Linked DNA regions of Homo sapiens: region 1 is linked to region 2. Evidence: fine-mapped expression QTL. A gene starts in region 2. The other region holds a variant in brackets. All regions are shown on one strand. Distances are from middle to middle.

Region 1 (2,920 bases), 3.6 kb after region 2:
AGGCCCAAATGTTTTCTTAGTCTGTCAACAGTCAATCCTAAGAGGTCACAGATGTGGACTGATGGTGAATTAAAATTGCAGCAAGAATAGATGCTATGGAAGTCACAGCCACTTGCTCTTGAAACTTACTTGTGCCTGAAGGACCTGCTCAAACCGAACCTGGTATATACTATTTTACTACTTACACCTGATGATGGATTTCTGCCATGCATGCCTAACCTTATGGCTCAGAGGACTGGTGTATTAGTTGTCTGAGTTTCCTGAGTAATAAATTACCCCAAAACTTCACAACATGCATTTATCATCTTACATTGTTTCTGAGGGTCAGGAATCTGGGAACAGCACAGTTGGGAGAATCTGGCTGAGGGTCTCTCACGAGGCTGCAGTCCAGTTGTCAGCCAGTACTGTAGTCACCTTAAAGCTTAACTAGACCTGCTGTAGCCCAATGATTCTCACCTTAAAGCTTAACTAGACATGCTGTAGCCCAATGGTTCTCAAATGGGGGTGATTTTGCACCCCAGAAAATATTTGGCAATGTCTGCAGACATTTTCAGTTCTCAAAACTATGGGGAGTGATGCTACTAACATCTGGTAGGTGGAGGCCAGGCATGCTATTAAACATCCTGCAATGCACAGGCCCGCCCCACAGCAAAGAATTGCCTGTCCCGTAAATGTCAATAGTGCCAAGACTGAGAAACCCTGCTCTCTCTTGAGCCCTTTTTTGCACTGGTCCCTAGACAAAACTTGCAGCGTAGTAGGTAACTCACAACATTGCTCTGAACAATAGACTCTAAAAGTGTTTATGTTACCTCAAAAATAAAAAGACCCACAGAATATTATAGCTCTTCTTCGTGATAGGTGGTACAAAGTACAGTAATTTGTCTTTCACTTTGGAGAGGAAATGCCAATATTCTCCAGACCACACTGGACCCCTAGAATCTTCACCAAAGCAATAGGCGTTTGATTTTTCTTGGGGATCATCTCCCACCCCCTGGCATACATTTGTCTTATTAAGGCATGTACGATATTTGCTCCTTGCTGCTCATCATGTCAATTACACATCAGCAGGATGTTCTGCAGGATACCAAGATGGTCCAGGCTCCTGCAGACTAGTTCTCGTCAGAGAGCAGGAGAGGTAACGCAGGCCTGAGGTAAGATAGGGAGGTGTTTTGCCATTCCTCCAGCTGCTTGAGAGCAAGCTTCTTCTGGTGATATTTGCTAATTTGGTATCGGGGGGAAAAAGCATCCACCAGATTCGTAGCTGCATACCAAGTGCCAAGAGCTCTGCTGTGTTATCCAATAAAAGAGACTACATCTGGTCTAGTAACTTGTTAATGTTGTAAGAATTCACAGTCATTCTCCAATAACCATCTTCCTTCTGTACATGCCAGACAGAGGAGCTAAATGAGGACACAGTAGAACAACTCTTGTACTGTTCAAATGTTAGATAGAAGTACTAATCGCTGTC[A/C]TTTCCCCAGGGATAAGGTATTGCTTTCAGTTTACTCTTACATAGGAAGGGGAAATCCCAAGAAGCTTTCACTTGGCCCTGCCTACCATACTAATACTCACCACACAAGACAGAAAATCCATATGGAGATGGGCTCTTTTTGTTTCTGAGATGACAGCTCCATTCAGGAATGGGAAGATAACCACATCGCAGGTGAAGAGACCCACTGGAATCCAATGAAGCAGCCACAGGTCCAAATTTCATTTACTACCTGATTACCAATAAGTGATACCCCCCTCCAATGGGTCAGAGGCATTTTGGGTCTCTAGAGATTAGCATAGACTCAGAACCAATGTCCAGAAATCTACCAAAAGCCTGGATATGCCCCCTTCCTCAGTACACAGTTACCCTAGTGAATGGCTGCATGTCTTTTGGGGAAGACTGAAAGGAAGATTTATGCTAGATACTTATAGCAATGTTATAGGGGCCTTCCTCAAACTTCCCAATCCTCTCCTTCATCTAAACTTTAGAGTTCTCAAGCCTTAGCATGCATCAGAATCAGCTGAAGTGAAGATTGCTAGGACCCACCTCCTGAGTTCTTGTGTCAGTGGGTTTGGGGCAGGGTCTGATAATGTGCATTTCTAACAAAGTCCCAGGTGATGCTGTTGCTGCAACTTCTTGGCCACGGTTTGAAAATCGGCAATCTAAGGATTTCTGTGTTTTAGAACTGACTCAGGTCTGGAATGTAGATGAGAGGCAATGACTCTCCATTGAACAGCTCAGGTTTCTATTCACTAGACCTAGAGATTTTCTGATTATATAAATCAGATAATTCTTAGTAGACTGCCCGTCTAGTTTGTCCTAGGGCCACTATGAATAGTGAGCCAATAGCAAAGGTCTCTGTATGCTACGACGTTCCGCTTGCTGCTCCATTATGACCATTACGGCAACTGTGCCCACCTTGCTCCTGGATAAGAGCTGCCACCTGGTTCTGCCCCTCCAGGAACCCATCATCCATTAAAATCAAGAAGTCTTTTAATGAAGAGGTCTTCTCTCAGTGGGGTCTCTTAAGAAGCCCCAACAAGACAGTTGGCTTGAAACATGTGCCAACTCTGGAGAAACCTGACCACATTAATGCCAATCAAGAAAGAGCTTTTCTGCTCTTACCACTCTATCTCCCTACATTCCCTACATCCTGGAAGGGCCAGAAACTGTGGCGTGCCTGAGTTTCATCCAGGCAATGAAAAAGAAATATCTCAAGGATTGGATTTTAAAAGATATTGGGGGCCAGGTGCGGTGGCTCACGCCTGTAATCCCAGCACTTTGGGAGGCCGAGGTGGGACGATCACATGAGTTCAGGAGTTCGAGACCAGCCTGGCCAACATGGCAAAACCCTATCTTTACTAAAATACAAAAATTAGCCAGGCATGGTGGCATGTGCCTGTAGTCCCAGCTACTCGGGAGGCTGAGGCA
Region 2 (2,920 bases):
AAGTTAAGAAGATAGCAAAAGTGCACTTCATTAATTAAAGAAGATAAAATCAAGAAACAGAGTTGGGGGATGGAGCTAGCAAAGAGCTAAAGAGGCCTTCATTCTGTGGTCAGTGGAAGCAGTGTCAGATGGGTGAGATGGCCTGAGGCGGCCTCACGGGGCTGAGGGCGTTGAACAGGTCCAGGCAGTCCTCCAACCCTGAGCTGGACCAAAGGGACTGGCTGCACAGGCTGAATAAGAGGCACTGCCCACAAATCAATTAAAATATTTCATAATTAAGAAAAAAGCATTTCTAAAGCACAGTGCCCCAGGAAAGGAATTTGGAATAAGCCCAATAATAAAACAAACTGGACCTCTATTTGAGCTACTATCCTATGTGGAAGTGCTGGCTGTGTCATGAGCTCCTTCCTCAAGAGAAAACCTAAGACCTATGCAGGGCTCTTCCTAGACTGCCAGTAGGATGACACATTCAGGTGACATGAATCACAGAGGAGGGAGGTACTACCAACCCCCCTCCCAACATGACACATTTACATATTCAAAAGATGACAAAAAATCAAGCTCCGAGTGCTTGCAATTCATTTGGAAGAGATAAGGCTAGGACATAGCCGAACAATACTTCAAAATACTTATTAAGCAATAAATAACCAGCTGCAGTTGAACGCTCTCTAGATTCCACAGTCTAGTTTAATCCTATTTCAGCCATTTAGATTCCTGCATAAGAGCTCTGGCGCGTAAAATTCCAAGTGGGGTAAGACACAAAAATTTCCAAATATATGCCTTGATAATACTTTCCTGAAATGGAAATGTACTTACTACTCTTATTGATTAAAAGAGCAGATTGAGAGCAGTCTAAATATCCATTATTGGGTCTTCTCATATAAATATGATGTATTCCTGTTTTGTTTGTTTGTTTGTTTGGGTTTTTTTTTTTTTTTTTTTTTTTTTTTTGACTAGAGAATGAGGAAGCTCACTATGGACTGATATGGAAGGAACTATGTATCATTCAGTGCTCAAACACAAAAGTAGAAACCTCTCTATATATCTCAAGCAGAGTAGGATGGAACACAGGAAATTGGTTAAAAACTACTGGAAGGACTGAGGAGCAAAAAAAGAAGGGGCTCTTACCCAAAGAGGCTGGGAAGCTGCCACTGGCCCTTGGCTGAATCCTGTCAGGGATACTCAGTGTTGATCTTGCTGAAACTATCCCCGGATTGCTGGAGCCCAGAGCACAGGCAGTCCAGGCCAGCTGGGGAAAATGGCTAATCTCCTCCTCCCACACTGGAACCTAGCACCAGCGCCTCCCATGAAACCAGCTGGATGAGTGAGTCTGGGAAAGAGGATGGAGGATTATCCAGAAGGGTGGACTTGGACTTAAGAGTCAAGAGACACAATCCAGCACATCCACCCTTTTGCTACTCAGCATCCACACATTCCATTGTACGCACCCTACAGCAACATCACACTTCTTCCTCACAGAATGCAATTTTATTCCTCACACAGATGAACACAAGTTCACTCTCTCCCTAAAACAGATAATTCAGAGTAAAACCCTGTAAGATAGTGGCCTCAGCCACTGTATTCATCCCAGGGTGATGTTAAATTTTTTCCTTTCAGACACCATTGCACCTTTTATAATGGATGTTCTACAACCTAAAGGCTAAGTTGTAAAATTAACCACCAACACTCAGTGTTATGCAGAGTAAACAAAGAAGAAAATGTGCATAGCTGCTACGGGTTTTGTTTTGGTGACTGGTAACAAAACTAGTTGACTGATGATGATAATAGTTAAATAATAATTGAGAATGAACTTCTTCCAACGTCCATTCCATCTTCCTTTTACCTTCAGCCAGCAACTGAAGTTAGTTGTCTGGGGTTCTTTTCTTGGCAAGATTATTGAAACCTTCATTTTTGAAGGGTCTAAGTCTTTAGCTGTCCTGCAGGTTGCAATATTATTCCAGAAACTTTTACTCTTGGACATGGAAGTGCTAAGAGGCACCCAGGAGAATTTCCAGGGCTTCAGACATAGTCCTCTCTGCCACCATTGTGTGTCACGGCAACCCAATTACTCCCTGGTAATAATTCTGTTCAGTCACCCCAGCCAGAAAAGTAACCCTCTTCTTTGCCTGTCCATTTAGTGGCAGAAGAAACTTGAAATGGGCAGACAGAAGTATCGAATTCCAGTTCAGTGGAACGTTATTGTTTCCCCTAGAGGAAGCGTTCTCTCCTAGGAATCAAGACCTTTAAACCAGCTGATCTATGTTTTGTAGAAGGAGGGCAAATATTCTGTGAGTGATATTCAGGATGTGATAGTGAGAGTAGCCACTCTCATTTTTACCCCTTGACTCCCAGGTCTGTGTATCCTGACTATGAGAGACATAGCATCACTCATTTGCTGATTCAAAGCATAATCTACGTGCAGTAAGAAAGCCACCTAGACTGCAGGCAGTTATCTTCCAGATGGTACCATTTTTGAAACTTCAGTTATCTATTTCTAAATTTTGTAATGATAACTACCTTTGGGTGCTGGAGTACATGGTAATCCAATAAGTCCCATGGGCATGATACCAATGCTGTACTACTTTTGCTGTAAAATTAGTTCTTTGGTCACAAGCAAAGAACTTCTTTGGTCATAATCATCATGCTATTAAATAAGGCTCTGTGTTAAGTTCACAGATGGTGGTACTGATAAACCCACTGCAGGCAGTGAATGCACAGCATATTTAGAAATAGTGTCCCAGCCTGGGCAACATAGCGAGACCCTGTCTGAACAAAAAAATTTTTTTTAAAAAAGAGCTGGGCATGGTGGTGAGTGCCTGTAGTCCTAGCTACTTGGGAGGCTGTGGCAGGAGGATCACTTGAGCCCAGGAGTTCAAGGTTATAGTGAGCTATGATTGCACCACTGCACTCCAGCCTGGGT

Evidence for each region. PIP is the estimated chance that this variant, and not a neighbour inherited with it, causes the effect.
Region 1: its variant is the best candidate, but not a certain one, in a credible set for the expression of CPVL-AS2 in hippocampus (GTEx, PIP 0.75).

The regions. Positions count from the first base shown.
Region 1 is chr7:28,974,717-28,977,636 of GRCh38, reverse strand. No RefSeq gene overlaps it. Among named protein-coding and RNA genes, the nearest start is that of CPVL-AS2, 3.8 kb to the left of the region's middle. The variant A/C (reference allele first, on the strand shown) is at 1,469.
Region 2 is chr7:28,978,307-28,981,226 of GRCh38, reverse strand. CPVL-AS2 (CPVL antisense RNA 2) reads right to left here and starts at 1,260. Exons shown (of 5, transcript NR_038965.1): 1 at 1,129-1,260.